4 linked regions of the Homo sapiens genome follow. The protein of the gene in region 1 interacts with the protein of each later gene in a pairwise test. Each region holds a gene or a part of one and is shown in the gene's direction. Other genes may lie near its edges. The genes, in order: CYB5B, MARCHF8, SLC10A6 and BNIP3L.

The links.
Region 2: the proteins of CYB5B (region 1) and MARCHF8 interact in binary tests that used the Homo sapiens proteins (3 or more experiments, as listed by UniProt).
Region 3: the proteins of CYB5B (region 1) and SLC10A6 interact in binary tests that used the Homo sapiens proteins (3 or more experiments, as listed by UniProt).
Region 4: the proteins of CYB5B (region 1) and BNIP3L interact in binary tests that used the Homo sapiens proteins (3 or more experiments, as listed by UniProt).

Annotation. Positions count from the first base shown.
Region 1 is NC_000016.10:69,419,322-69,428,056, forward strand, and holds the start of CYB5B (cytochrome b5 type B), read left to right. Parts: upstream 1-5,297; 5' UTR 5,298-5,362; coding exon 5,363-5,536; intron 5,537-8,735. UniProt on the Homo sapiens protein: Cytochrome b5 is a membrane-bound hemoprotein functioning as an electron carrier for several membrane-bound oxygenases.
Region 2 is NC_000010.11:45,525,057-45,532,842, reverse strand, and holds part of MARCHF8 (E3 ubiquitin-protein ligase MARCHF8), read left to right. Parts: intron 1-7,786. UniProt on the Homo sapiens protein: E3 ubiquitin-protein ligase that plays several important roles in innate immunity and adaptive immunity.
Region 3 is NC_000004.12:86,831,749-86,839,534, reverse strand, and holds part of SLC10A6 (sodium-dependent organic anion transporter), read left to right. Parts: intron 1-6,110; coding exon 6,111-6,229; intron 6,230-7,654; coding exon 7,655-7,743; intron 7,744-7,786. UniProt on the Homo sapiens protein: Transports sulfoconjugated steroid hormones from the extracellular compartment into the cytosol in a sodium-dependent manner without hydrolysis.
Region 4 is NC_000008.11:26,378,092-26,386,502, forward strand, and holds the start of BNIP3L (BCL2/adenovirus E1B 19 kDa protein-interacting protein 3-like), read left to right. Parts: upstream 1-4,962; 5' UTR 4,963-5,039; coding exon 5,040-5,139; intron 5,140-8,411.

The DNA of each region.
Region 1 (8,735 bases):
ACAGAGCAAAACCCTGTCTCAACAACAACAACAACAACCAAAAAAAAAAAAAAAAAAAAAGAAAAGAAAAGAAAAGAAAAAATATTCAACAGGATTCAACACCCTTTCTTAATAAAAACAAAATAAAAATAAAACAAACTCAGGAAACTAGATCCTCAAGATCCTCAAGCTGATAAAAGACATCTACTGAAAAATTATATTAAATTGTGAAAGACTGAATGCTTTCCTCCTAAGATTAGGAACAAGACAGGGATGCTAACTTCACCATTTCTATTCAACACTGTACTGAAAGTCCTAGCCAGTGCAACAAGGCAAGGAAAAAAGAGGCATACAGATTGGGAAGAAAGGTGGAAGCAAAGCTGTCTCTATTAGCAGACGACATATTTATTACATAGATAATTCTAAGAAATCCATAAAATAATTACAGGAACTATAAGTGAATTTGGCAAGGTATAAGATAGTAAGTCAATGTACAAAATCAATTATATTTATCTAGACTGGCAGCAAACAATTGGAAAATGAAATAATTTCATTTATAGGGGCATTAAAAAACGAAACATTTAGAAATAAATTTAATAAAAGATGCTAAAGATGTCTACATTGAAAACTACAAATTAAACTGAAGTAAATGGTTCATGAAATGTAAGGTTTTTAAGGTGTCTTTTTTCTGTAAATTCATCTATAAGCACTTTTGTAAAATTAAGAAGCTGATTTTTTTTTTTTTCTTCTAGAAACAGGGTCTCACTCTGCCACCCGGGCTGCAGTGCAGTGGCACAATCATAGCTCACTGTAGCCTCCAACTCCTGGGTTCAAGCAATCCTCCTGCCTCAGCCTCCCAGGCAGCTGAGACTATAGGTGCCCACCACCATGCCCAGCTAATTTTTACATTTTTTTAAAGAGATGAGGTCTTGCAGGCCAGGCACAGTGGCTCACGCTTGTAATCTCAGCATTTTGGAAGGCCGAGGTAGGCGGATCTCCTGAGGTCAGGAGTCCAAGACCAGCCTGGCCAACATGGTGAAACCCTGTCTCTACTAAAAATACAAAGAAATTAGCTGGGCATGGTCGTGGGCACCTGTAATCCCAGCTACTCAGGAGGCTGAGTCAGGAGAATTGCTTGAACCCGGGAGGCGGAGGTTGTACTGAGCCTAGATCATGCCACTGCACTCCAGCCTGGGTGACAGAGTGAGACTCGTCTCAAAAAAAAAGAGATGAGGTCTTGCTATGTTGTCGAGGTTGGTCTTGAACTCCTGAGCTCAAGCAATCCTTGTGCCTCAGCCTCCAAAGTGCTGGGATTACAGGAATGAGCCACAGTGCCCAGCAAAAAATAATAACTTTTTTTGTAATAATTTTAGATTTACAGAAAAGTTGCAAAAATAATACAATGAGTTTCTGTATACTCACTCAATTTTCCATAAAGATAGCATTTTACATTACCATAATATGTTTGTCAAAAGTAAGAAATCAACACTGGCACCTTACTGTTTTATTTGGATTTCACTAATTCTTCCCCAGTGCCCTTTTTCTGTTCTAGGATCCAGTCCAGGATACTATACTGCGTTTAATTGTCATGTCTCCTTAGTTTACTTGAGTCTGTGACAATTTCTCAATCTTTCCTTTTTTTTTTTTTTTTTTTATGAGCTTGTCAGTTTTGAGGAGTACTGGTCAGGCATTATGTAGAATGTCCCTCAGTTTGGGTTTACCTGATGTTTTTCCCATGCTTGGACTATGGTTATGGATTTTGTGGAAGAATGCCACAGTGGCAACATGCCCTTTTCATCACATCACACCGGGGGTACATGCTGTCAACATGATTTATTATGGAGATGTTTTAATTTGATCACTTGGTCAACAAGCTGATTTTAAATTGTGTGTGGGGCCGGGCATGGTGGCTCATGCCTGTAATCCCAGCACTTTGGGAGGCCGAGGTGGGCGGATCACCTGAGGTCCGGAGTTTGAGACCAGCCTGGCCAACATGGTGAAACCCCCTCTCTACTAAAAATATGAAAATTAGCCAAGTGTGGTGGTGGGGGCCTGTAATCCCAGCTACTCTGAACCCGGGAGGTGTAGGTTGCAGTGAGCTGAGATTGTGCCATTGCACTCCATCCAGTCTGGGTGATGAGAGTGAAAAAAAAAAATGTATGTGGAAATACAAAGGATCTAGAATAGCAAAAATAATTTTCAAAAGTTAAGAGCAAAGCTATAAGACTTATATTACCTGATTTAGTGCCTTACAATAATCAAGACTGTGGAATTGGCACAAGGATAAACAAATAAGTCATCGGAACAGAGTAGAAATTTCAGAAGGAGAACCACACTTATATGATCAATCAATTTTCGACAGATACAGGAAAACAATTCAAGGGGGAATTGTGTTTTCATCAAATGGTGCAGGAACAAGTGGGTATCCACATGGAAAAAAAGAGGCTAAGAAACCTGCCCAAGGTCACCAAGTTTGTGAGTGGCAGGGACAGGTATTCCAAGCCAGACTTTCTGGCTAACATGTGCTATCAATTGTAAATATAAATTTATAACCAAAACATTTAGGTCACAATAATTTTTCAGTGTAAAATTCAATTTGAGGCTATACTATTTAAAAATGTCAATGTCATGAAAGCAAAAGCAAAGTTAAGGAAATGTTCTAGATTAAAGGGGACTCAAGAGACTTAGCTAAGTGCAATACATGATCCTGAACTGGATCCTGGGTCATACAGGCACACTAAAATTTCACAAAGGACATGAATGCAATAATGGAAAATAATATGGAGAGTATGTTAGATAATAATTTTGTGTGAATGTTAAATTCTCTGAATTTGAAATTCATACTGCAGTTACGTGACAATATGTTCTTATTTTTAGAAGATACATGTAGAATTATTTGGCTGTAAAGGGTGGTGATATCTGAAATAGTTCAGCATTATTAACAACAATGATCAAAATAATATGGAAAAAATCAAATATTGAAAAATATTAACAGTTGGTAAACCTAAGCTAAAAGTATATGGTCATTCATTGTATTATTCTTGTAACTTACTTATTTGAAATTCTAAAAACATTTTCAAATATAATGTTACAGGTATATATCACTTAAGTGCTAGAATTTGTAATTTTTTTATTTTTTATTTTTATTTATTTATTTTTATTTTTTTGAAACAGGGTTTCGCTCTGTCATCCAGGCTGGAGCACAGTGGTGCGATCATACATCACTGCAGCCTCGACTTCCCAGGCTCAAGCCATCCCCAGATCTCAGCCTCTCAAATATCTGGGATTACAGTTGTGTGCCACCATGCGTAGATAATTTTTGTATTTTTTGAAGAGACAAGAGCCTCACTATGTTGCCCAGCCTGGTCTTGAACTCCTGGGCTCAAGTGATCTGTCCACCTCGGCCTCCCAAAGTGCTGGAATTACGGGGCTTGAGCCACCACATTCAGCCTGTAAATGTTTTTATTTCTTTCAGAGATTTTGTTTCTTATGTTATCTCTCTACTCCCAATGCCTATCATAAGACTTGTAACAGTAAATAGTAAATGTCTGGAATAAATGTAAATATTTGAATCTAGAGTTTGTGGAGGATCCTAAGAATCTTGTGAGATTGCTCTCATAGTGTCAGTCTAACTAGGGAGGTAAAATACGTAAAGTTAAAATTTACAGACGTAGCAGGCTTCCCAAAATAGTAATATGCTTTCTTAGGTACTACAAAGGGATGGAAGCACTGGAGCTCAAAACGGTAGGAGAAGTTTGAAAATAGAAGAAACTGAAGAGGAACTTGAAAAGCCGGTAGGCATTGAAAGGAAGAGGAGTCCTTGGGACAGCAATTGAGGGTAGAATGTGGAGTATCCCATGTTTCTACCACCATTCAGAATCCGATTTTCAAATGAATTCTGTGATGATCAGGATCAATCTGCACTATTTTAGTCTCTAAGTGATCTAAAATTAACTTGGTGGACCTGGGATGACCACGGATGTGGTTTTAAACCAGCAGGTTTCAGAGTCGGGGCGGGTGCAACAGGCTTATAAAGGGAATGGTGGAAAATATTATACGTTAGTGAAAGAGGTTGCGAATGGATTGTGGAGAGCCCTGAATGGTAGACTGCGAGAGTGACAGGATGAAAACGACGACATCATAGGAAGAGCAATCTGTCAGTTGTAATGGCAGTTAAAAAGTGGCGCACAACACTGTACCTTAACCAAACTTGGAATTCCAAAGTGCTGGGACCTCTAGCGGAGAGCAGTTGAGTTCAATTCTATTTTAGATCACGTAGAGACTAAAATAGTGCCGATTGATCCTGATCATCACAGAATTCGTTTGAAAATCGGATTCTGAATGATGGTAGAAACATAGGATACTCCACATTCTACCCCCAATTGCTGTCCGGGACAGCAATTGCCTTTCTAATCGACTGCCATGTTTAGCGATTACTATGCGCCAAGCGCTTTACAGGCACTCTCATTAAAATAGGCAAACCGGGCCAGGCGCGGTGGCTCACGCCTGTAATCCCAGCACTTTGGGAGGCCTACGCAGGCGGATCACCTGAGGTCAGGAGTTCGAGACCAGCCTGGCCAACATGGTGAAACCTACTCTCTACTAAAAATACAAAAATTAGCCGGGCGTGGTGGCGCATGCCTGTAGTTCCAGCTAGTCGAGAGGCTGAGGTAGGAGAATCGCTTGAACCTGGGAGGCGGAGTTTGCAGTAAGCCGAGATCGTGCCACTGCACTCTGGCCTAGGAGACAGAGCGAGAACTTGTCTCAAAAAAAAAAAAAAAAAAAAAAAAGGCAAACCCCTCTGTAAGAGAGTGCTTTATCAAGCCCATTTTACTGATGGGGAAATTGAGGAGAGACGGGATTGGCCAGATCACGACCTGGAGGCAGCAAAGATGTAAAATCAGGGTTGGGATACAGGCTGCGCCGGTAGTGTAGGGGATAGGAACTTTCTGAGACTCAGGAGAAAGCCACAGCGATGGGAAGGGAAGCAGAACACTGGAGACCCTAAAGGCCCACAGGCTGAGAGAAGTGGTACCTCTCCTGAAGTGACACCTGTCAGCACGCCTCTTTTGGGCGCCAGTCCAAAAATCGCGGTATCTGATTGGCGAGGTTGGAGGGGGCTGAACGACCCTAATTGGTTAGTTGGACCTCGAACCAGACTTTCATCTGGAGGATCGGGCGAGGAGTGGGCGGGATTTCGAACTGAGCCACTCCCTTCATTGGTGAAAAGAAAACGAACCAGGAACTATTCGGAAGTGTGATTGGCTGTTGCTAGGAACCGTCTCAAGGCCTTATGGGCCCTGGTTACGGAAGCCGAGGAAGGCTGAGCGCGGGCTCTCAAGGAAAGTAGTCGCGGAATCTCAGTTAGCGGTGGAGAGGCAGTATGTCCGGTTCAATGGCGACTGCGGAAGCTAGCGGCAGCGATGGGAAAGGGCAGGAAGTCGAGACCTCAGTCACCTATTACCGGTTGGAGGAGGTGGCAAAGCGCAACTCCTTGAAGGAACTGTGGCTTGTGATCCATGGGCGAGTCTACGATGTCACCCGCTTCCTCAACGAGGTGGGGCCTGGGAGGTGGGAGGCCTCTGAAGCTGCTGGGGCGAGGGGTGAAAAGGCTGTGTGGAGTGTATGTGGGAAGGAAGGGAGGCTTGGCTGGGGGCGATAAGGCGTAAGAAAGGGATCACGACCCTCAGAGGGAAACTGGGGTGGGATTGGGGGAGGGCTTTAGTTTGCATGCATTTCCAGTCAGCTCCGAGTTCTGGTGCCTTATGTAATATCATGTATTACTTATGTGTCGAGCATTTGCTGTGTGCTCAGCTAAACTCTAAGCCATCATTATCTTTATTTTACAGAAAGGGAAACTGAGGCTCACAGGTTGAGGACTCTCAGGGCCATAGAGTTAGCAGCTTAGATCCGTTGAACCTAGGTCTGAAGTGCACCCACATCTGTGCTTTTCCAGTGTGCCTTCTGAAGTAATACCGGTTTTGGTTTTCGTCTTCTAGAGTAGAAGCTGAGATTTCTCTCCACACGCTTCCCCATCTTGATTATGCCTCCACTGTTTTTTTTTCCCCCTAATCTGAGTTGACCTTGAGGCCAGAAACTCATAAATCAACCCTTTTTTTTTGTTTTTGACTCATGTTTTGTCATTTTTCTTAAATATTCAAGACTGTTTTATTTAATCTTCAAGTCTGTTGCATTACATCTCATTTTAAAAATTATTTTTGAGACCATGGTGCAACTAATTTTTTTTTTAAGGAAACAGGATAGACTTCTAAATATTTAAAACTTTATTGAGGTGTAATGTACATACGTAAATTGTGCCTATCTAAAATGTACATTTTGATGAGTTTTGAAAAATGTATTCATCCATGTTAAGACATAAACCATTTCCATCATTCTAAAAAGCTTCCTTTCCCTTTGCAGTCATTCTCTCCCAACCCCAGGCAACTAGTGATATGCAGCCGCTAAAGATTGGTTTGAAGCTTTGATTTTCGGTGTGTGTATGTTTGAAGCTTTGATTTTCGGTTTGTGTGTGATCATTTTATTTTGAGCAATAGATTAATGACTTGTGAAAGTTCACTTCTATTTCTCTGAAGCAAATATACTAGTGAAATATTTTTTCGATTAATTTGGGGCCTAAAAGAGAAATCTCTGCATCCTGACTTTTAATTCTAAAAACTTTTAAAATTTAAAAGTTTCCCCCAAAGAACATTATTTTTAATAAATCTTAATAGTGAACAATAATTTAACAAACTCAGAATTTACTAACTTCTTGCATTTGTATGGTGTATGGCATTTTATGCTTTTAAAAGTGCTTTCCGGTCGGGCGCGGTGGCTCACGCCTGTAATCCCAGCACTTTGAGAGGCCGAGACGGGCGGATCACGACGTCAGGAGATCGAGACCGTCCTGGCTAACACGGCGAAACCCCATCTCTACTAAAAATACAAAAAATTAGCCAGGCGTGATGGTGGGCGCCTGTAGTCCCAGCTGCTCGTGAGGCTGAGGCAGGAGAATGGCGTGAACCCGGGAGGTGGCACTTGCAGTGAGCCTAGATTGCGCCACTGCAGTCCAGCCTGGGGGACCCAGCGAGATTCCATCTCAAAAAAAAAAAAAAAAGTACTTTCCCGGCCAGGTGTGGTGGCTCACGCCTGTAATCCCAGCACTTTGGGAGGCTGAGGCGGGCGGATCACGAGATCAAGAGTTCCAGACCAGCCTGACCAACATGGTGAAACCCCGACTCTACTAAAAATACAAAAATTAGCTGGGCCTGGTGGTGGGCGCCTGTAATCCCAGCTACTCAGGAGGCTGAGGCAGGAGAATCACTTGAACCTGGGAGGCGGAGATTGCAGTGAGCCATGATTGCACCACTGCACTCCAGCCTGGGCGACAGAGCGAGACTCCAAAAAAAAAAAAAAAAAAGCTAGTGGAGGGTGACTTGGATAGTAGTGATTTTTTTTTTTTAACAGAGGTACAAGTAACAGGTTCAGAAAGATCCTGGTCATACAATCAATTAGTAGCAGATTTGACAGATCCCTTGATTTCTCTTGTCTGCATAGCATTACTTCAAAATTCTAGCCTTAGCTATGACTTCTGGTATTTGCTTCATAGTAAGTTTCATGCTAAAGCATGGTTCATAATGGGTAGAAAATCAAGTTTTTTGGCTGGGCGCAGTGACTCATGCCTGCAATCCCAGCACTTTTGGAGGCACAGGCGGGCAGATCACCTGAGTTCAGGAGTTCGAGACCAGTCTGGCCAACACGGCGAAACCTCGTCTCTACTAAAAATACAAAAATAAGCCAGGCTTGGTGGCACCTGTGATCTCAGCTACTTGGGAGGCTAAGGTAGGAGAATCGCTTAAACCTGGGAGGTGGAGGCTGCAGTGAGGTGAGATGGTGCTGCTGCACTCCAGCCTGGGTGACAGAGTGAGACTCCATCTCAAAAAAAGAAAAAAAAAATCATGTTTTTCATTTGTGGTTTTATTTCCCTCCATTTTTTTTCTTGATTGATTCAGAATAGATGGTGAGCTTGGAGGGAACACTCAGCCCTTACAGAGAGCATTAATTCAGTCTCAAGTAATAGTTGCTAACCTGTTTCTTTCTTTTTTTTTTTCCTCTGTGAAGATTCCAGAAGTAACTAACCTGTTTCAACCACATGCTGATATAGCCAGAGACATCACTAATGTGCCAAGGTTTCTCTTGGAGCTTGAGCTGCAGCTCTTTACCTGCAGTTTTGTTTTTTTTGTTTTGTTTTTTGAGACAAGGTCTTACTTTCACCCAGGCTGGAGTGCAGCTCACTGCAGCCTCAGTCTCCTGGGGTCAAGTGATCCTTCTATTTCAACCTCCCGAATAGCTGGGAAAAGGTGTGCACCACGACGCCTGGCTAATTTTTAAAATTTTTTGTAGAATTGGGGTCCCACTGGCTGGGTGTGGGCTCATACCTGTAATCCCAGCACTTTGCGAGGCGAAGGTGGGCAGATCATGAGGTAAGGAGTTCCAGACCAGCCTGACCAAAATGGTGAAACCTCGTCTCTACTAAAAATACAAAAAAATTAGCTGGGCGTGGTGGCACACACCCGTAATCCCAGCTACTCAGGAGGCTGAGGCAGGAGAATCGCTTGAACCCGGGAGGTGGAGGTTGCAGTGAGCCAAGATGGTGCCGTTGCACTCCAGCCTGGGCGACAGTCAGACTCTGTCTCAAAAAAAAAAAAAAAAAGAATTGGGGTCCCACTATTGCCCAGTGTGGTCTGGAACTCCTGGGC
Region 2 (7,786 bases), on another chromosome or scaffold:
AGTTCTTTGGATTCTCAGAACATGATGCTGCTAGTTTCCTATTCATCGTAGTGTGAAATTTGGACACCAGATGGCTGGAATTTCTTAATATGTGTCTTAGTCTGCCCTAGCTGCTGTAACAAAATGCCATAGCCTGGGTGGTTTAAATAACAAGCATTTATTTCTCACAGTTCTGGAGGCTGGAAATCTGAGATCAGGGTGCCAGCATGGTTGGATTCTGGTGAGGTCTTACTTCCTGACTTATAAACAGCTGCCTTCTTGCTGTGTCCTCACATGGCATAGAGGGAGGAAGGAAGCAAGCTGTCATGTGGCTGTTCATATAGAAGGACTGATCCCATGGAGAGGGTTCCACCCCTAGGACCTAATTGTCTCCCCAAGGCCCCACCTCCAAATACCATTACATTATGGATTAGAGTTCTGGCATAAAAGTTTTGTGGGAAACATAAACATTTAGTCCATAATAGTGTGTACATGGGGAAGCTATACAAACTTGTTTGGAATAGAAAAAGGAAAATGTCCAACAGTTAGGCCAGGAAGGGAGATTCTTTTTGATATACACCCTCACTGCAGGTTTACTGTAGGTGGTTATTTAATAAAGCCTTATTGAATTTATCTATTTGATGGGATTTTTAAGGTCTAAATAAATAGCATTAATCAATTATTTGTAGAATGGGGATTTTTATTGGTATTGGGAAGAAAGAGAAACCATTCTGTCTTACCTTAGTGTGGGGATGGTTTGAACACCCAGTGGCAGCCTGACAGTTCAGGGTGTCGTGGAGCCCAGATGAGGTGGCAGTAGTGGAAGAGCAGTTGAACCAGGAACTTGCAGGGCCCCGTGAGAGCTTCAGCAGCAATGGCACAGGATGAAAATAGTGGTTGTGTTTCTAGGGTCTCAATTGTGGTATCAGGTTTGATTTGAAAGGTAAATTTTTGTCCAGTGGAGCCCATTTTTATTTATGCAGTTTTTCCTGGCACAGGTTCAACCCAAAATCTTTTGCTATGATTTCTGATCCTCCTGTGCTTGGGAGATATTATTCCTACTGAGTCCCATAAGAAGAGTGAACCCTTGCATTTTACCTAGACTCAAATAATCCACCTGTTTGCTTAGTCTAATCTGTTAACACACCCTCGCTGAAGCCCATAACTTCTACAGAGGGTTAATGACTTTTATACAGTACTCAATACAGTTGATGAATGAATGAATGAGTGAATATGAATTCAGTTTCAGTGATATGGGTCATGTCACTGTGGAGATGATCTTTTATTTCAAATACAGTATGAGAACCTTACAATAGTATACTTTCATTTCTTTCCTTCTGGCCTTTTCATTATTGTCTTTTAATAAATTTTAAACCCTAGAATATATTTAAAAAAATACTTTCTCTTTAAATACTTTTCTTTTAAATAATAATAAAGATCTGTTTACTCAGATAATTACCATTTCTGGTGTATTTCCATCTATCATTTTTCTTTTGTCTAAAGGACTTTAGCATTTCTTATAATGTGAGTTGGCTGACAATGACTTCTTTCAGCTTTATTTAAAAAATATTTTTTATTTGTTTCTTGTATTCTGAAGTTGTGCTTGTGGATCAGTGGGTTTACAATTTTCATAGAATTTGGAGCTTTTTGGCTATTCTTCAGATACTTTTTCTGTCCCCCCATTCTTTCTTTGGGGACTCCAGTATACACATTGACTGGCTTAAAGTTGTCCACTGCTGCACTTTTAATTTTTTAAGGTTATTTTTTCTTTCTGCATTTTATTTTGGATATTCCAATTACTTTGTTTATAATTTCATTAATATTTTCTTTTTCAATATCTAATCTGCCAGTAATTCCGTCTAGTGTGTTTTTCATCTCAGACATGTTTTATCACTAGACATTTGTTTTGGATCTTTTTTATATCTTCCATGTCTCTATGCAACTTTTTTAGTATATGAAATAACAGCTATAATGACAGTTTTAGTCCTCTTTTCTGTCATTGTTGGCATGTGTGACTATTCTGAGTTTGCTTTTCTCCCTCACTTCGGTCAGTTTTATTTTCATTTTTGTTATTATTTTTTACTTATTTTTGAGTACAGATCTTGCTCTGTTGCCCAGGCTAGCATACAGTGGCGTGATCACAGCATACCGCAGCCACGAACTCCTGGGCTCAAATGATCCTCCTGCCTCAACCTCCCAAGTAGCTGGCACTATAGACCATGCCTGGATAAGTTTTTCTTTCATTTTGTAGAGTCGGGGTCTTGCTATTGCCCAGGCTGGTCTCAAACTCCTGGGCTTAAGCAATCCTCCCATCTTGGCCTCCCAAATTGCTGGGACTGCAAGTGTGAGCCACTGCACCTGGCCCAGTTTCATTTTTAAGTAAAAGTTTATTTCAGACTAGTTTTAGATTTACAGAAAAATTGTTAAGCTAGGATGGAGTATTTTCATATACCTGACACCCAGTTTCTCATATTGTTATTATTTATAGATTTAGTACAAGTGCAGTGTTGTTACACCACCTGAATAGTGCACATAAGCACCCATGAGGTAATTTCTCATCCCTCACCCACTCCCATCCTCCCACCTTTCTGAGTCTCCAATGTTATTATTCCACTCTCTATGCCCCTGTGTACATATTTTTCAGCTCCCACCTGTAAGTGAGAATATGTGATATTTGACTTGCTCTTTCTGAGTTATTTCACTTAAGATAGTTACCTCCAGTTCTATCCATGTTGCTACAAAAAAACATGAATTCATTCTTTTTTTATAGCTGAGTAGTATTCCATGATGTGGATTACTTTATCCAATCATCCGTTGATGGGCACTTAGATTGATTTTATGTCTTTGCTATTGTGAGTAGTCCTGCAATAAATATTTGAGTACAGGTATCTTTTTGATATAATGATTTCTTTCCCTTTGCGTAGATCCCCAGTAGTGGGATCACTGGATCAAATGGTATTTCTATTAGTTCTTTGAGAAGTCTCCATATTGTTTTCCATAGCAGCTGTACTAGTTTACACTCCCAACAACAGTCTGTGAGCATTCCCTTTTATCTGCATCCTTGCCAACATCTGTTATTGATTTTTTTGACACCTGAGTAATAGCCATTCTGACTGGTGTGAAATGGTATTTCATCGCTTTTATTTGCATTTCTAACTTTTTAAATGTTTCTTGGCCATTTGTATGTCATCTTTTGCAAAATATGTGTTCATGCCCTTTGCCCATTTTTTAAAAAGGTTATTTTTTTCTTGTTGAGTTCTTTGTAGAGTCTACAAATTAGCTTTTTGTAAGATGCATAGTCTGCAGATATTTTCTCCTGTTCTGTAGATTGTCTGTTTTCTCTGTTGATTATTTATTTGCTGTGTAGAAGCTTTTTATTTTAATTAAGTCCCATTTGTCTATTTTCATTTTTGTAGCTTTCCTTTTGAGGTCCTAGGCATGAATTCTTTGCCTTAGGCCAATGTCCAGAAGAGTTTTTCCTAGGTTTTCTTCTAGAATCTTTATAGTTTCAGATCTTTCAGGTCTTTATACTTTCAGGTCTTTAATCCATCTTAAGTTGATTTTTGTATATGGTGAGAGATATGGGTCCAGTGTCATTCTACTGTATATGGTTACCCAATTCTCCCAAGTATCATGTATAGAATAGGGTGTTCTTCCACTAGTGTATGTTTTTGTTGACTTTGAAGAAGATCATTTGCCTGTAGGCATGTGTCTTTAATTTGGGTTCTGTAAGCTGTTTCATTGACCTGTGTGTCTCTTTTTATAATAGTTTTGGTTGTTATAGCCTTATAGTACAATTTGAAGTCAAGTAATTTGATGCCTCAAGTATTGTTCTTTTTGCTTACCATTGCTTTGGCCATTCAGGCTCTTTTCTGGTTCCTTGGGTATTTTAGGATTGTTTTTTCTAATATTGTGAAAAACAATGTTAGTATTTTTATAGGAATTGCATCTGCAGATTTCTTTGAGTAGTATGGTCATTTTAATGATACTGATTCTTCTAACCCATGATCATGTTTGTGTCATATGTGATTTCTTTCGTCAGCGTTTTGTAGTTTTTCTTGTAGAGATCTTTCACATCCTTGGTTGAGTGTATTTCTGAGTATTTTATTATTTTTTTGTAGCTATTGTAAATGGGATTGACTTCTTGGTTTGGTTCTTGATTTGGTTCTCAGCTTGATTATATCATTGTTGTATAGAAATGCTACTGATTCCTCCTCACAACAAAAAATACAAAAATTAGCTGGGTGTGGTGGCACGTGCCTGTAAGTCCCAGCGACTTGGGATGCTGAGGTGGGAGGATCACTTGAGCCCAGGAGGTCGAGGCTGCGCTAAGCTATGACTGCGCCACTGTGCTCCAGCCTGGGTAACAGAGTGAGACCGTTTCAAAAACAAACAAAGAAACAAACCCCAACTAAACAAAAGAAATACTACTGATTTTGTAGGTCGATTTTGTATCCTGAAACTCTACTGAATTAATTTATCAAATTTACGAGTGTTTTGGAGGAGTCTTAGGGTTTTCCAGGTATAAAATTATATCAGCAAACAGAGATAGTTTAACTTCCTCTTTTACAATTTAGATGTCTTTTCTTTCTTTCTATTGCATTACTGCTCTGGCCCGATAGGACTTTTAGTACTGTGTTGAGTAGGAGTGGTAAGAGTGGGGATCCTTGTCTTCTTCCATTTCTTAAGGGGAATGCTTTCAACCTTTCCCCATTCAGTATGATGTTGGCTGTGGGATTCTTGTATATGGGTTTTATTATTTTGAGGTATGTTCCTACTACACCAAGTTGTTGAGTGGTTTTTATCATGAAAGAATGCTGAATTTTATCAAATGCTTTTTCTGTATCTATCGAGATAATATGGTTTTTGTTTTTAATCCTGTTTATGTGGCAGATCACATTTATTGATTTTTGTATGTTAAACCCTACTTGTATCCCTGGAATATAACCCACTTGATTGTGGTGTACCATGTTTTTTGATGTGCTGTTGGATTTGGTTTGCTAGTATTTTCTTGAGCGTTTTTGCATCTGTGTTCATTAGGGGTACTGATTGATTCTGTTTCTGTTTTTGTGTGTCCTTGCTTGGATTTGGTGTTAGGGTGATACTGGCTTCAGTTAGAGAGGATTTTCTTCAATTTGGGGGAACAGTGTTGTCAATAGGATTGGTACCTATTCTTCTATGTCTGGTAGAATTTGGCTGTGAATTCATCTGCTTCTGGGGTTTTTTGTTGTTGGGAGATTTTTTTTTATTTTTATTACTGGTTAAGTCTTACTGGTTATTGGTCTCTTCAGGCTTTCTCTTTCTTAGTTCATTCTTGAGAGGTTGTGTGTCTTTAGGAATTTACCTGTTTCATCTAGGTTTTCTAGTTCGTTAGTGTAGAGATGTTCATGGTAGACTCTGATGATCTTTTGTATTTCTGTGGTATCATTTGTAGTGTCTTTTTCATTTCTGATTGTGCTTATTTGAATTTTCTTTCTTCTTGGTTAATGTAGCTAGTAGGCTGTCAATTTTGTTTATCTTTTCAGTGAAGCAACTTTTTGTTTCTTTATCTTTTGGGTTTTTATGATCTGGATTTCATTTAGTTCTGCTCTTCATCATTTCTTTTCTTCTGGGTTTGGTTTGTTCTTGTTTTTCTAGTTCCTTGAGGTACTATGTCAGGTTAACTTGTGGTCTTTCTATTTTTTTCGATTTAGGCATTTAACGCTATAAACTTTTCTTTCTTGAATCCATTTACAGTCAACACTATAAGCTTTTGCTGTATTCCAGAGGTTTTGGTATGTTGTGTCTCTACTTTTGTTTAAAAAATTTTTAAACTTCCATCTTAATTTCATCACTGACCCAAAAATCATTCAAGAGCAGGTTAATTTCCATGTATTTGTATAGATTTGAGAGTCCTTCTTGGAATTGACTTTAGGTTTTTTCCACTGTAGTCTGAGAAGACAACTTGAAATGATTTCAGTTTTTTAAAAATTTATTGAGACTTGCTTCATTCCTTAAGATAAGGTCTGTCTTGGAAAATGTTCCACATGCTAATAAGAAGAATGTATATTCTGTGATTGTTGGGTAGCTTGTTATATAAACATCTGTTAGGTCTATTTGTTCTACAGTCCAATTTAAATCCAGTGGGGTTTTTTTTTTCTTTTTTTTTCTGTCTCAGTGGTCTGTCTAGTGCTGTCAGTGGGGTGTTGAAGTCCCCTCTTGTGCTATAAAGGAATGCCCAAGGCTGGGTAATTTATAAATAAGAGATTTTATTTGGCTCACTATTCTGCAGACTGTACAAGAAGCACAGTGGTTGTGTAAAAGTGCCTGGCCTCCTCTCTTCAGCCTGGCTTGTTGGCTGGTAGCAGCAGCTGCTCAGGGCTCGGAAGCCTGTGTACTCCCATGTGAGTTTGAGCAATGCCTCTGTCAATCTCCAGGCAACTCACTCTATTAGGCTGGAGACCTGCGAGGGTCAAGGGGGTCTCCCACAGCTAGCGTTGCAAAAGTCCATGGTGGGAATGTGGAGCCCTGGGAGTCTCTCATCTACCCTTTCCCAGCATCTAGAAGCTTCTTTCATCTCTCAGCAATCCTGGCTGAGCACGTGCCTTGCTTCCTTCTCCTTTGTGATCAGTGATTCCTGTTGCTTTTCAGTTGAATTCCAGTGTTCTGTTTTAGATGACCTATTTGAAGGGTGAATATCTACTCGCCGTTTTGGAGCTTTCCATGGAAGAGGCATGTACTAGCTGCATCTAGTTAGCCATCTTGAACCAAGCTTCCAGTTTCTCATATTATTAACATCTTAAAATAGTGTGCTGCATTCATCATAGTTAGTGAACTAATATGAATACATTATAGTTTTAAAGTCCATGCTTTATTCAGATTTCCCTACTTTTTAACTAATGTCCTTTTTGTGTTCCAGGATCTCATCTCTAGGATGTAGCATATTACATTTTGTTGTTGTATCTCCTTAGGCTCCTCTTGGCTATGACAGTTTCTCAGACTTCCCTTGTTTTAGATTACCTTGACAGTTTTGAAGAATACTGATCAGGTATTTTGTGGAATGTCCTTCTATGGGAATTGTCTGATATTTTTCTCATGACTAGACTAGGGTTATAGGTTTTGGGATGGAAGTCCACAGATACAATGTACCAGTTCATCACAACAGATCGAGTATACTATCAACATGATTTATGACTGATTTTCTTGACCACCTGGCTGATATAGTGACTATCAGGTCTCTCCACTATAAAGTTACTCTTTTTCTCCCCTTTTGTACTTCATTCTTTGGAAGGAAGTCACTAGGCATAGCCCACTTTAAAGAATGGGGAGTTGTGCTCCCCCTCCTTGAAGGTGGAGTCTTTACATGAATTATCTGGAATTCTTCTACATGTCTGGAACCCAAATTGCAAGATTGTCCAAAAAATACATTTTTCAATTTTCTGCCCTGTCCTCCTTGATAAAGGGATCCTGAAAGAAATGATCTGTATCCCAGGATTCCTGAAAGGTGATAAGTAAGAAGGTAATTCAATGATCAACTTATATTTAAAGTAAGCTACACAGAAAATAAAAGTGGTATTTTATATATTTATAAACAGTCCTAGTTTTGGCCCTGTTGTCCTGCTACTGAGGTCAAAAGGAGGATTTTACCATGCAGCATCAGGATGATGGTCAGTAAACACAATTTCGTATTTGCTCTAAAAACACATGAGTATTGATAGATCATACTGTATTCATTTGTACCTAACATCTTTTGAAAAAATGACCTCACAATGTTCAAGTGATAACAATATCTTTAGACAGAATCACCACACTTTTACTACTTAAAAAT
Region 3 (7,786 bases), on another chromosome or scaffold:
GGATGTCTGTGATAGATGAAGTGGGAAAAAAAGCAAACAAGTTGCAGAGTAAGGTATATTATAAGGTTCCTTTTTTTATTTTTAGAGACAGGGCCTCCTTCTGTCCCCAAAGCTGGAGTGTTGTGGTGTGAGCATAGCTCACTGCAGCCTCAAACTCCTGAGCTCAAGCCATCCTCCTGCCTCAGCCTCCCGAGTAGCTGGGACTACAGGTGTGTACCACCACATTCAGCTAATTTTTGTACTTTTTTTTTTTTTTTTTTTGTAGAGACCAGGGTCTCTCTATGTTGCTCAGGCTGTTGTTAAACTCCTGGTCTTAAGCAATCCTCCCAATTCAGCCTCCCAAATTGCTGGAATTACAGGCATGAGGCACTGCACCTGGTCTGATTCCTTTAAAAAGAAAAAATAATGAAAGAAAAAAATCCTATTGATTTAACAAACAATCATGAAATAAATGGACTGCTTAAAAGAAAAATAAAAGAGTAGAAGGATGTACACAAATACTTGCAAGTTATCTAAGTTTGGATTTCTGAAAGGAGCACCAATCAGCTAAATATTTGCTTCTTAAAATTTTACTTGCTTTTGTCTGGGAAGAGCATAATTTTTTTTTTTTTTTTTTTTTTTTGAGACACTGTCACCCAGGCTGGAGTGCAATGGCATGATCTCGGCTCACTGCAACCTCCATCTCCCAGGCTCAAGCAATTCTCCTGCCTCAGCCTCCCGAGTAGCTGGGATTACAGGCGTGTGCCACCATGCCCGGCTAATTTTTGTATTTTTTTTAGAGATGGGGTTTCACCATGTTGGCCAAGCTGGTCTCGAACTCCTGACCTCAGGTAATCTGCACGCCTTGGCCTCCCAAAGTGCTGGGATTACAGGCATGAGCCACCATGCCCTGCTGGGAGAGCATAATTTTATAGAAAGTCTCTTTTTCTGGATTGCTATGGGGCTGTTTACCATTTGAACTAAGTATAAAGGGGTCATTTCAGTAAGATTTTTACCAATGTTCACCTGGAGATACGTGACATATGACGGAGACAGAGAGAATATTTCCATAGCACCAGTGTGTTGACATTGGTTCATTCTTTGATTCATACATTTATTCAGTAAGTATTTAACGAGCTCTTCCAATATGCTGCAGCGTGAGACTATGCCAGGTCTCCTAGAGATGGAGAGGAAAATAGGACCTGGCTGTCATGCCACTCACTCTGGCACAGATGGACAGGTACATAAGTACTTGTGTAGGGTACAGCATGTGTATAATTCATGAGCCAATGTCAATAAAACCATGTCCAGAGGGCCATGGATTCAGAATCCTAGAAGCAGGATCGCTAATTTTCCTAGATATTGCCAGACACCCTCTGTGGTGTACCATTTTTACCAGCAATGAGTGAGAGCACAGAGGGAATCTTTTTAGTATCATTGAAGTAAAACAGATGCTGCTTTGTCAAGAGTATAAACATTCTTCTGGCAGAAAATGTTAAAGTAGTCATAGACGTATTATTTTATAGACAGGGTAATTGGATGGAAGCAATGGTGATATATATTAGGAGGAAGAGTGACAGATGACTTGTAGACCCAATAAAGTGCTGAAGGACCTTCTGTCTATGCAGAAGACCTTGACGTATGAAGGGCCTCCTCCCTCTCCTTTGTAGAGCAGGAGGGCAGTCTGCTTCTCAGTCTGTCAGTCATTTGTGCCTTGAGCACAGAATGAGCACAGTGTCTATAAACAGTTTGTACATGCTTAAACAGATTGTGTAATTTTTTCCAGCAAATTGAAAGATAAAATATTTGACTGGTCTGATGGGTATCTTCTTTCCATTTATTTTCTTTCCCCTAATTTTACTAATGCATTCTTTCACTGGTTCTATCACTCAGGTAGGTACAAAATACAGCCTTAACTTGCGATTTGGGAGTGAGACTGAGATGGAAAGAATAGATTTGGGATGGAAGGCACCAAAAAGTGGGGTAAGGTTGAATATTTCTTCAGTTCTCATCCTCCCTGATTTTTATTGGCTTTTAGCCTTCATTTGGGAGCTTTCTTTTCTTAGCTTTCATGAAATATAACCTCCCAGCTCTCCACTGACTTCTTTTTTAAATTTTATTTTTAATTGACAAGTTAAATTATGTATATTTATGGTGTACAACATGATGTTTTGCTTACTTGCTTCTCAAATCCCAGCCTGCCTGCCTGCCTTCCTTCCTTCCTTCCTTCCTTCCTTCCTTCCTTCCTTCCTTCCTTCCTTCCTTTCTTTTTCTTTCTTTCTTTCTTTCTTTCTTTCTTTCTTTCTTTCTTTCTTTCTTTCTTTCTTTCTCTCTCTCTCTCTCTCTCTCTCTCTACATGCACCATGGGCTCTTCTTCCTCTCCCTGGTTTAGAGCAAAGGAGGCTTTACAATATATAAAATATTAACTATCAGTTAATGTAACTAAGTGCTTTTCCCTAAATAAATTTAGACCAAAAATATATATGGAAAATACAAAAACACAGTATATTATGGCCGGGCGTGGTGGCTCATGCACTTTAGGAGGCCGAGGCGGGTGGATCACCTGAGGTTAGGAGTTCGAGACAGCCTGGCCAACATGGTGAAATCCCATCTCTACTAAAAATACAAAAATTACCTGGGTGTGGTGGTGGGCATCTGTAATCCCAGCTACTCAGGAGGCTGAGGCAGGAGAATCACTTGAACCCAGGAGGTGGAGGTTGCAGTGAGCCGAGATTGCGCCACTGCACTCCAGCCTGGGCGACAGAGTGGGACTCCATTTCAAAAAACAAAACAAAACAAAACCCCAAAAAATCTGCAACAAATTACAAATGTGTGAAGCAGTAACTTAGTTCATATAATGTAATAACAATATAGTAATTGTCTTAGTCCATTTTGTGCTGCTGTACAGGATACCTGAGACTGGTTAATGTATAGAGAAGAGAAATTATTCCCTTACATTCTGGAGGCTGGGAAGTCTAAGATGAAGGTGCTGGCATCTATTGTCTGGTGAGGTCCTTCTTGCTCCTCACGTGGTGGAAGAGAGAAGGGCAAAAAGGAACAAACTTCCTTGGTGGAGTCCTCTTAAAATAGCATTAATTCATTCATGAAGGTGGATTCATTGTGACCTAAACACCTCCCAGAAAGCTCCACCTCTCAATACTGTTGTCTTAGGGATTTGATTTCCAACCTATGAATTTTGGAGGACACATTCAGACCATAGCAGTAATCACGATACACAGTTTTTGAGGACTTCAAACCAAGTACTCTTCCCCCTCTGTCACAGACATTATGTACTTAAAAGTTCTTAAGAACCATTGCGCTTAAAATGTGTTAGCCTTTTGACTTAGAAACAATTAACCTCAATAATAACAGAGATAAACAAACCAGTTTTCCAGTAGAAATCATTCTGGATTTGTTGAACAAAGACCACAACTTCCTTCTGATGGTCTCAGTTGTTTTCCTGGTAAAGCTATGTAGCATGGCTGTTGGTTTTGGTTTGGTTCGTCCGGCTCACAAACCCACATTTCACTTTCCAAGGTGGCCAGAGACAACCCCAGTAATGACACAGATAAACAGACTGATTGTCTTTAGAAATCTTTCCAGGTTTGTTCACCAAAGACTGGATGTCCCACTATCACCTTACTTAACACAACCCCTCTAACTGATGCTAAGTGACTCAGCTTTTTTGTATATCACACCATCATTTTGAAGCCTAGAAATCTTACTTTGTACTCTAACTCATCACTCTACTTCAATCTCAAATCTCAGTCCCTTCCTTTTCTTTTCTTTTCTTTCTCTCTCTCTCTCTCTTTCTTTCTTTCTTTCTTCTCCTTTTCTTTCTTTTCTTCTTTTCTTGTGTCTTTTCGTCTTTCTGTCTTTCTTTTTTTTTGAGATGGAGTTTCACTTTGTTGCCCAGGCTGGAGTGCAGTGGCATGATCGTGGCTCACTGCAACCTCCGCCTCCTGGGTCCAAGTGATTCTCCTGCCTTAGCCTACCAAGTAGCTGGGATTACAGGCACCTGCCACCACACCCAGCTAATTTTTGTATTGTTAGTAGAGACAGGGTTTCACCATGTTGGCCAGGCTGGTCTCGAACTTCTGACCTCAGGTCATCTGCCCGCCTTGGCCTCCCAAAGTGCTGGGATTACAGGCATGAGCCACCATGCTTGGCCCAATCACAGTTTCTAATCATAGGATCACACGATATCAGGATTGGAACAGAATTCTTAATTCAGTCTAGCATCTCACATCAGTTCCCTTTCTCTGTGGTTCTGTACCTTCCCTTGCCCTAACCAACTTGCTCTGTCTGCAGGTCAGCGACTGTGGGGGTCACTGCCCTATCCAATGGGGAGCTTATGGCATGTGGTGTTTGCGTGACTTCTTCCTGACAGATATTTATTAACACTTCATACTGGGCAGGCGTTCAGTCAGCTTTGTGGCATTCTAACTTGCTGATGTGGTTTGGGTGTTTGTCCTCTCCACATCTCATGTTGAAATGTGATTCCAGTATTGGAGGTGGGGCCTGGTGGGAGGCTATTGGATCATGGGGTGGATCTCTCATGAATGGTTAATGCCATCTCCTTGGTGATAAGTGAGTTCTTGCTTAGTTAGTTCACATGAGATCTGGTTGTTTAAAAGTCTGGGACCTCCCCTTTCTCACTCTCCCTTGCTCCCTCTCTGGCCATGTGAGATACCTGCTCCCCCTTCCCCTTTGCCTTCTACCATGATTGCGAACTTCCTGAGGTCCTTACCAGGAGCACATGCTGGAACCATGCTTGTACAGCCTGCAGAACTATGAATCTCCTTTATAAATTACCCAGCCTCAGGTATTTCTTTATGGCCATGCAAACAGCCTAATACACTTCCAATCCCCTTGGTACCAGAACTAGATATCACAAGAAAAGAAAACTGCAGATCAATAGTTCTTATGAATATACATGCAAAAATTTTCAATAAAAATACTATCACACTGAATCTAGCAACATAAAGGATTATACACCATGACCAAATATGATTTATTTCAAAATGCAAGGTTGATTCAATATACAGAAAAATCAATGTGATATACTATATTAATAGAATAAGGACATAAAAAGAATGAAGCTGTGATATATGTTAAAACATGGATAAACCTTGTCTTAGCCCATGTGAGTTGCCATGAAGGAATACCTGAGGGTAGGTAATTTCTAAATAAAACAGGTTTATTTGGCTCGAGGGTCTGCAGGCTGTACACAAGAAGCAAAGTGCCAGCATCTGCATCTGGTGAGGGCCTCATGAAGACCCCACCCATGGTGGAAGGGGAAGAGGAGCAGGCATCACATGGTAAGAGAGGGGAGGGAGGTGTCAGACTCTTTTTAACAACTAGAGCTCATAAGAACTGAGTGAGAACTCAGTGAATCCCACGAGAATGGCACCAGCCTGTTCATGAGGGATCTGCCCCTGTGACCGAAATATTTCCCACTTGCCCCCGCCTCCAACGTTGGGAATCAAATTTCAACATGAGAGTTGGAGAGGACAAACAGCCAAACTATTATCAAACGTCGAAAATGTTATGCTAAGGGAAAGAAGCTAGACACAGAAAAAAGGCTGCATGTATGATTCTGTTGATATGAAATGTCCAGAACAGGTAATCCTATAAAGACGGAAAGTAGATTTGTGCTTGCTAAGGGCTAGGGGAAGGAGGGATTGGGGAGTGACTGCTAATGGGGATGGGGTTTCTTTCTGGGGTGATGAAACTATCCTGGAAATGGTGCTATTATTGCATAATGTTGTGACTATACTAAAAACTGCTGAATTGTATAATTTAAAATGATGAATTTTATGGCTTGTGGATTATACTTCAATAAAAAAGAACTAGATAAGAAAATAATTCTATAGTGCCTAGCAGAATTTTAAGGCAAGTAGATAGTAAAATAAATATGAGGTAATTGATGGATGACAAGAACTACTGGAAATCTCTTTGTAGACCAGAAATATAGCCATCGTTTGTTAAACAACGGGAGAGAAATGAGCTCCAAGGAGCTTAGTCCATGTAATCTCTAGGAAATTGTGTCCTAGGAGTTGCTTTTGGTAAAGACTAAATTCTTCATGTCCAATGCTCCCTCCTAAGCATTGTATTAATTTTACTTTCAGCATCAGTATGACAACCTGTTCCACCGTGGCCGCCCTGGGAATGATGCCACTCTGCATTTATCTCTACACCTGGTCCTGGAGTCTTCAGCAGAATCTCACCATTCCTTATCAGAACATAGGTCTGTATGGGCCTGGGAAATGGAGGACTAACAGTAATGGTGATGATACTAATAATAGCTGTTCTTAATTATATAACTCTTTATGCAGGGATTTTTTTGGTAGTACTTAATTTAATCCCTTAAAGAACCCTACAGTATAGATTCTGTTACCAGTTCAGTCTCCTAGGTCTTCAGGCTTCAAGAGGTTTAGTAACTTGATCAAGATTATGCAGCTGGTAAGTACGGAACTGGAGTTCTAACCCGGGAATCTGACTACAAAGTGCAAACTTTCATCCCTATAAGAGTGCATTTTTGAAAAAAAAAGAAAGCCAGATAATTTACTTTGAAAAAGCAGGAATCAAACCCTTATGTAATTAGACTATAAAGCAATTGGACTCTTTATACTCCAAGGTTTAACTGGATCTAGTGGCTCTAATTAGACCTTCCTGTGACTTCACCTTTCACATTGCCTGCGAACCTTGACTTTTTCTTGGAGGTTGAATGTAAATAATTCTTACTGATTATGAAAACTCATCTACATGTCACAGTCTCACCCATATCTCTTTCATTATCTCCTCTTCTGAATATTATTTCTCATGAAAGTCTGCCATTTTCCTAAAGATCTCTGTGGGTTTAGCAAGCTTAGAAGAGAAATGTGGTGAAATGATCTGCCTTTTCTAGTGTGGTCAGTTTTTGAAAAAGTGATAGGCACTATGTTTTTTTGTTTTTTTTTTTTGAGACAGAGTTTTGCTCTGTCACTCAGGCTGGAGTGCAGTCGTGCAATCTCGGCTCACTGCAACTTCTGCCTTCTCCTGCCTCAGCCTTCCGAGTAGCTGGTACTACAGGTGCAGGCCACCACACCCGGCTAATTTTTTTGGTATTTTAGGAGAGACAGGGTTTCACCGTGTTGCCCAGGCTGGTCTCAAACTCCTGAGCTCAGGCAGTCCACCCACCTTGGCCTCCCAAAGTGCTAGGATTACAGGTGTAAGCCACCGTGCCTGGCCAACACTATGATTCTTAAGACTCTCAGTGTCAATCTGGTGTCTCAGGTAAACACCTTGAAGGCTTACAACCCATGGCCCATAGTTCAAAACCATGAATGAACCCACTTCCTCACAATAGCGGGAGCCCACTGAATCTGTAAAATTTGAGGGAAACCTTAATTTAGAAACCATGATTTTATGTGCAACTTTTTTTCTGATCAGTAAGTTATTTAATATATTCTGCTTTGATAATATGTTCTGAAAGGCACTCACAAGACGCAAAATGTTATGAGCAGCTTATATAACTTTGGAGCCAATATTGTAGGCATTTATCCAGACTTGGGAAGTGGCATGGGAAAATGTCAGTTTAAAGCTGTTACCTAATTGAAATAGAAGTTGTTGGGAAGTACTGTGCAGTCAGGGTGAGAGGGAAAACCCTCTCATGGATTTTTCTTCTCTTTAGGAATTACCCTTGTGTGCCTGACCATTCCTGTGGCCTTTGGTGTCTATGTGAATTACAGATGGCCAAAACAATCCAAAATCATTCTCAAGGTGAGTGACTTCATGGCCACTGTTGGCACGTCCTCAGACTCAG
Region 4 (8,411 bases), on another chromosome or scaffold:
GGAAACTTTCTAATTATTTTCAATAAAATGAGTATAGTAAGCTGGGCAAAGTGGCTCATGCCTGTAATCCCAGCAGTTTGGGAGGCTGAAGCAGGGGGATCCCATAAGACCAGGAGTTCAGGACTTGCCTGAGCAACACAGGAAAACTCTGTCTCTACAAAAAACACAAAAAAATAGCTGGACATGATTGCAGGCACCTGTAGTTCCACCTACTGGGAAAGCTGAGGTGGGATGATCACTTGAGCCCGGGAGGCTGAGGCTGCAGTGAGCTGTGATTGTACCACTGCACTCCAGCCTGGGTGATAGCATGAGACCTTGTCTCAAAAAAATAAAAATAAAATAGCACATGATTAATAAAAAACTTTTTTTTGAAAGTTTAAAACCTTTTGAAAGGAGCACCTAAAAGGAAAATAGAACAAAGTGGGATCTCGTAGTCCTGACTGGGAAAACAATTCTATAAATATGTCAATAATCCCCTCAATTTCTTTTTTATCATTTGGCATTAGAAACCTTTTATTGAGACAAACGGTGGGCTGAAAATAATACAGGGTGAAGGAAGGTTGAGGAAACCAGTATGAAGGCATCTCAAATGATGAACTAAATACATTCCAAAGGTACTATTTACACTTAAGGCAATTTTAAAAGTGAGGTCTTAACCAAAAAGCCTTTACATGGCATTAAAAAAAAAAAGCGGGGGTCATTTAAATCTTTTGGATTGACTAAAAGAGCTAAATTATGTACCCAAAATCTGTACAGCAGGGGCCTGTTTTCAGCAGGTAAGCCTATTATATGCAAGAAAGAACCTCTTACTCTTGTTACAATTGTCCTGTTTTGCTTTGTTTTACAGGAATATATAACCCCCATCCCCACAGAGTTAGTCCATAAGGCCTCAGTGTCTGCATAGAAATGTGGACCTACCTCTACTAGAGAACTATTTACACTGCACTGTAAATACACGTCTGTGTCCACCCCCACAACTAAGCTGTCAATGCCTTGAGTGAAGGGGTAGTTACAACTCAGTCATTTTGTATCTACAGTGACAATTAATAGGCACTCAATACTTTTTTTTGCATGAATGATAAATGATATTACACTACCACCACTATTTACATTAACATTTCCCATCATTAGCTGTCCCCAAAATAAAAACACCAAATTGCTGCCACATTTTCAGCAGTTTTCATAATATAGTGCTTCTGGACTTTTTAATGTAAACAAACATGCTTGATTTACCAATTTTCAGAGTAATGACACAAACTTAGCATTCTTCTTGGAATGGAAAACTTTCTGGGAAGTTACTTCATTCTTTTTCTCTTTTCAAAAGGCATCTCGCAGCGCCAACTGTTTTTCTCAGAAGGAACGCTTATTTTCTGACCAGACATTCTGGCTATACCACATCATCATAAAGTTCTTCTGTTTTTTCTTCTCTTTACTTTTTGAACTGGAAAATGGATTCACTTTGGTTTTCTTCCTCACAAATTCTTTTCGGTCTGTCTTTCCAGCCATTGCAGTTGCTAGTCTTGTCTCTTTGTCAGATTTTGGCTTTTTATGAAGGCGTTCAATGTCCGGAAGAGAAAGTAATTCACCCCTCGGCTCTTCATCACTGTCGATTTCAATATATTTCCTCTTCTGGGATTTCCCGGGGACAGCGTCAAGTTCTTTTCTCATTTGCGCCATGCGGATTTTCTGGAAGTCTTCCTAACTTAAAACTCGACTGGTGCTGACGGCTGCAGTTTTGGCTTTCTGCTCCTCCATGGGCATGGTGTTCAGCTTCTTGGAAATTTCTTGCTGTTCTTCATTGGAAGAGTGTTGCACATCAACCCATTCGCCATCGGCATCCTCCTCCTCACTGAGACTGGTACTTTCCCATCCATCTTCATCATTTTCAGCACTCTCCTCTTTCTCAACTTCCAGAACTTCTGCTCCTGGAATGTAACCTTTAGCATCTAATTCTCCATATTCTTGTACTCTTGCTTCTATGGAGGCTTCTGTAGGCTTACCCCAGAATTTCTTCTGCAGCATCTGAGGATTCAGTGTTCGGAAGAGCCGAATCAAAGTTCTAGCAGACATCATTACATTATTATCCTTGTGTGTTTTATACTGAGCCAGGTCTTGGAGAAGCTTTTCAGTCATGGCCAGAGGACACTGAGCTGTTGTCTCTTTTACAGCATTGATTCCTATTGTCATGGCTTCTCCAGAGTTCTTGTCGTTAACAAAATTGTTGGCCACAGTCATAAGCAATGATTGAATAATCGCTGGGTGTACTAGGTGATGAGATGCTTGTGCAGCAAACAGAAGGTTCTTTGTTACTTCTCTTTGGTGGGGCTGCAGAAACCTTCGCAAAAAGTGATAGAAATTGAAGAGGAAGAGCTTATGAATTCCCACCAATCTGAGATGAGGTTCATGAGCATCATCTTCACTTCCAACCTCTCCTTACAGCACTCAAGCTGCTTTAGTAGTTTTTCTGCAAAATCTTGGGGATCATGAATCAAGTGAACGGCTAAAAAGTTAAACACCTCTGGTTTTTTCTTCTTCTTTTGTTTCTTGAGCACTTTCATTGCCTTTTCCAACTTTTTCTTGTTTTGGGAACTTTGTTCCCTGTAGCATACTGTGCTAGCAGGTCTCTTGCTGTTGGTCCGTCATCCTCAGATTCGGAGTCACTGGCCTGTTTTTCATCTTCATCTTTTCCAAGAAAGAATGTCAAAGCAGCAACTAATATCTTGGTGACCTAAGAGAAACATGCAGTTGTGATAACATTGACAGTTTTGGTATCATTCCAGATGTTCCTTCTGTAGAGTTCAATCATAACATCTAAAGACATCTTGGCTGCAGTTGCATTGCTATCTCTCAACATGGTATACATGAAATTTTACAATACTACATCCACTTTATTCTTGTGTTTTGCATTTATATTCTTGATATCAGTCACGATATATGTGTATGAAGTCTTTTGCAGAAGCTTATCATGGCAACAGAGAAGTTCAAAGAAGAGTTCTAGCAGGCTTGATGGATTGATGAGATTCTTATTTCTCAGCAAGATCAAAGCTTTGCAAAATGTCATTCGAAGATCTGGATCCAATACAGTATGATTACAGGACAGAAGATCTTTCACCACTTGAGGAAAATTACTTAGATACCCTGGGTAGCAGTAACTAATCTATAACAAAGCAAAGGCTCTTCTGAAGTTTCTCTCTTTCTCTCCTATTATTCAGATGCACATATTTAGGACGTTCTGTGCCATAAACACCACCAGCTCTGCTAGTTCTTTACCGGGTTTATATGGTTGCAATTTGAAAATCTCCACATTGGATGTGTAGTGATTATACTGCTGTAGAAACTCCTAGATGGAGGGTGGTGGGTCTCGCTTCATCAGATTCTGTAACTGCAGTCAGGTTGCTGGGCAGCTTGTTGTTGTTTCTGCTGGACATTCTGGCTGAAGACTGGCTTCGCGGCGAGCAGTTTTAATAAAACTCAGATGGCCAGCAGCCGCCAATCCCTACCAGCTGCGGCTTGAACTCCTGCTTCCGGGTATGACCGGAAACAGCACTCAATCTATTAATAGAGTTCATTTCTGACCAAAATCTTAAAAGAATTTGCAAAGGGATTTGACAAATCAATCCTTAAAAAAAACCTTTTAGCATGGACTTTTTCAAATATATTAAAAAATTAGAGGAATACTTTAATGTATTACATAGCTTCAATAATTACCAACACAAGGTCAATCTTGGACAAGTCCATTTTTAAGTTCATCTGAAGAGTAACTAGCCATTAACATCTGAAAAAGACAAAGGAAGAGAAACTTTAATAGTTATCTAACAGAGGTATTGCAGATAGCCCTGAAACAGACTCACATTTTTGTGGTCATTCAGAGAGTGACAAAGGTGCAATTTCAAATCAGTGTAGAAAGGATGGCTTAAAATTAATATTATTAGGTCAATGGGCTACAAAATTGGGAAGAATTGAAGTTAAATAATTTACAGCATATGGAAAATAAATTTCAGATGGATTAGAGCTCTAAATGTAAAGTTAAGCCTATAAGAAAATTAGAAAAAGTTATAAGGGAATTATAGATTAGTAATCTTGGTGTGACTGTCTCCCCAAGCCATGTAAGAATGATAAATCTGATTACATGAAAACCTTAAGCTTCTACAGAGTGAAAAAAACAAATTAAAAGACAAGTTAGAGACTGCGAGAAACATATGTCACTCATAAATCAGACCAAGGAGACTGGACGAAGACATGGAGATGTGAAGTAGGAGGTGTGCTCAGGAACATAGTTTAATGTCATCCACGTACAGGATAAACGGCTTCCCACGTCATGTCCCAGAAATCGATTAGTCGATGGGATTTGGGTGAGTACTTTCTTCTCTCTGTTTTCCTGAATTTTTCTTTTTTCTTTCTTCCCCTTTCTTCTTTCTCTTTTTTTCAGAATGATGGTGTGTTTGTAATCGACATTTTAAAAATTCTGTAACAATTAAATTTGGGGGCGGCCTTCCCTTGTTTCCCGTATGGAGTGTTGATGTTTCAGCAGCTTTATTTGGAGTTTACACGTGGAGGCACCTGGGTTTGGGGATTCCTTTGTGTCCCCAAGACACCTATTGCAGAAGTGAGTCCTAAGAGGTAGAAAACAGATGCGTGCGCAGGGCTGGGTGAAGCACTGTGGAGCCTGTGTGAGAGGAGGCACGGGCGCGAACACAGGAGCGCACTTCCTCATTCCGTTTCTCCTCATCCTCTCTCCCACTGCCACTGGCATCACTCATCCCATCCGGTCATCCCAAGTCACACGCAAGAGTTCGTTCCCGGCGCGCGCGTCAGCCTGACTCGAGCGTCTCCACGTCCGGGGCCCGCAGGGGAGCGCCCCTGCCCCGTCCGGTCGCTTGTTGTGTTGTCATCACGTGGCCTGGGCGGGCCCTGACGTCAGGGGCAGGGGAGGGACGGCGCAGGCGCAGAAAAGGGGGCGGCGGACTCGGCTTGTTGTGTTGCTGCCTGAGTGCCGGAGACGGTCCTGCTGCTGCCGCAGTCCTGCCAGCTGTCCGACAATGTCGTCCCACCTAGTCGAGCCGCCGCCGCCCCTGCACAACAACAACAACAACTGCGAGGAAAATGAGCAGTCTCTGCCCCCGCCGGCCGGCCTCAACAGTGAGTGCGGGGCCGAGGCTCTGTGAAGGGGATGGGGGAGGAGGAGCAGCCCCGGCCGCCGCCACCGGCGCGGCGCGGGAGGCGGGAGGAGAAGGCAGCTCATTGGCTCAGGCATGGGATGTCCAGGTGACTGACAGCTCCCGTCCCCTGTCAAGAGGAGGGGCGCCTGCCTTGCTCCGGGCCTCTCTGTTGCCTCCTGGGGTCTTGGGCCCGGGGCCGTTTGGGCTCGCGGTCCGGGAGCGGCGCGGGTAGCGCGGATCCCCCTGGTGCGGGGGGTGGTCCCCAGCAGCGGAGCCGGGCGGGGCGGGGCGGGGGCGGGCCTGGGGGGCGGGGAGGCCGGGTGGGCGGAGCGGGCCGCGGAGGGGACGTGGGCCGGGATGGGGACGTGCGGCGGGGACGCCGGGGGATGGACGCGCGGGAGCGGGGCGGGGCGGGCGGCTGCCGCGGGACGTGTCGGGGATCAGGTGTGCGGGGCTCGCGGGCGGGCAGCGTCTGGCGGGCGCGGGAGCCCCCCAGCGAGCATTCCTTTGTTGCCACACGTTTGTCAGGAAAATTCATTTGCTCGTCTAGGGTTGGCTTCAGTCACGTGTGGGGTGAGAGGCTGTGCCTTGCTTCTCCTTTTTCCTTTTTTATTTTTTTATTAGATTTCTCGAAGTTGCCCAAGTGATTTTTTTTTTTTTAAAGCGATGGGTTGTGCGCCCAGTAAAGCTGAGAGCAGCCTCCTGAACCACCCAAGATTGCACACGTCAGGGAGTCTGGGGCCATGCATTTAAAGAAACGGAATTAAAAACGCACTCGGGCAGTTGAAAGTTAACGGACGAGGCTGATAGACAACCCAGGCCAGGGTCTTTTCATAACATTCCGCTGCCCAGACATCTTGTCCTCAGATTGTTCCTAGTCGTGAGAACCGGGAGCCTTCTTGGAAGGGTTCTTGCCTAACCTTTCTTTAATTCAACTCTTGGGAAAGAGGTAATGGGAGCAGTGAGCATATGGCCAGATGAAGTCTTTTCAAAACCACTTGGATGCTTAAAGGTCATGCAGTATCTTTCGTAAGAGGGAGGTGCTTCCAGTGTGGCCTGAAGATTATTTTAGGGAAGAGAGTTTCAGCCCTCACCAGGTAGCGATGGAGTTTGGAGATTTTAAGATGGATGCTGCTGCTCCAGGTTTTGATGGGTTAATTCCCAAAACCTTTAAGTGTCATATATTCCAGAATGTAAGATGGTTATATTATTTCCCACAGTAAATTAGGATGAATGTATGAGTCTTTAAACGTTACTTGTATCACATATTCCTATGCAATTTTAAGTTATTTGCCCATGTTTAGCATACTGTCTTAGATTTTAGAATGGGAAGAAACTTCAGAGCTAGCTAACTGCCTCCTGTTGTTTGCCTGTAGAGAAACAGGTCTAGAGTAAATGGCCTTGTCCAAGTTCACAACCGGCTGGGAGCAAAGCAGAGGTTCTCATGTTCAGCCTGTCTACTGCTCTTTTGAGGACATTTTTTTTTTTTTTTTTTTTTTTTTGAGGTAGAGTCTCGCTCTGTCTACAACCTCCGCCTCCCAGGTTCAAGCGATTCTTCTGCCTCAGCCTCCCGAGTAGCTGGGACTACAGGTGCCTGCCACCCGCCCAGCTAATTTTTGTATTTTTAGTAGAGACGAAGTTTCGCCATGTAGCTGGGATTACAGGCGCCCGACACCAAGCTAGGCTAATTTTTGTATTTTCAGTAGAGAGGGGGTTGTTGGTCTCTCACCATGTTGGCCAGGCTGGTCTCAAACTCCTGACCTCACGTCATCCGCCCGCCTGGGCCTCCCAAAGTGCTGGGATTACAGGCTTGAGCCATCGCACCGGCTTCTTTTCAGTGGTGCAGAACCTCCTGCTGGTGTGTGTGTCTTATTTTGTCAGTGTGTTATTCTACCTAATTGACAAAGGTGGCCAACCTTTCTGTTTCTTTTTAGTATTGTTTCTTAATTGTACAGTTTTCTTATGAGTGAAGATACTTGGTAGGTGTACGTGATTTCACTGAAAGCAAAGGGATTTTCATCTTCCTTTGACCCTTTAACAACAACAACAAAAAGGGCTGAGCCAGGCAGGGCACGATGGCTCACACCTGTCATCCTAGCACTTTGGGAGGCCAAAGCGAGTGGATCACTTGAGGTCAGGAGTTCGAGACCAGCCTGGCCAACATGGTGAGAGAACAACCCCCTCTCTACTGAAAATACAAAAATTAGCCTGGCTTGGTGTTGGGCGCCTGTAATCCCAGCTATTCAGGCGGCTGAGGCAGGAGAATCGCTTGAATCCGGGAGGCAGAGGTTGCAGTGAGCCGAGATCACGCCACTGCACTCCAGCCTGGGTGACAGAGCAAGACTCTGTCTCAAAAAAAAAAAGGGGCGAGGGCGGGGGCTGAGCCATATGTCATTGTTTATCTTGGTGTCTGACAGACCTATGAGGAGTTTGATGTCTTTGGCCAGTCGGTTCCTGCTTGGCTGACATCAGCTCTTACAGAGGTGGAAGTACACTCAGCCTGCATGGGACATCAAAATGTTGCTTTGGGACATCTGCTAGATAGAAAGTATTTTGTGTGGGATAGGGTGAGCTTTCTGAAAAGCTTTTAGATATTGCCATATTTAATTACTCCCTTCTTGCCTCTCACTCTGTTCGTTTTTTTAGCTCATTACACAACACTGTACTGAACAAAACAAGAAGCCTCATTGAATTCCTTGAAGTGATTTTTGGGCAATGGGCAAAACAACTTATTCAGGCATCTAGTACTATCCAAATTGCTGATAAGTCGAAGGACTTTGTTGGGTAAAGTTGCACAACTGAAAAACAGGAGAAGAAATGTACAGATTATCTTGCGTTTGGGATTTTATCTTTGGTTCAGGGGTCAAAGCAGGGTTTCAATAGCAAATTACTGAAGTATTTGAATAGTGAAGTATTTTTGTGATTTTTTTTTAACTTTACCGCTGTGGAGAGACTGTTCACTTTCATTAAAAATTACAGGGCAAATACCCAAACTCCTTCCAAGTCAAAAGGATGTTGTCCAGTTTGTTTTATTGTTAAGAAAACTATCAACTTCCTTAAGAATGTTTGAATAAGATTCAATAGGGCCGAATAAGGAAAATCAAAGTAGTAGTGTAAATCGTAGTATAATTCTTGTTGTTGAGAAGTATAGCCTTTTTTTTCTTTTCAAATTTTCTTGTTCTTTTTTGTTTTTTGTTTTGTTGAGACAGGGTCTTGCTTTGTCACCCAAACTGGAGTGCAGTGGTACAGTCA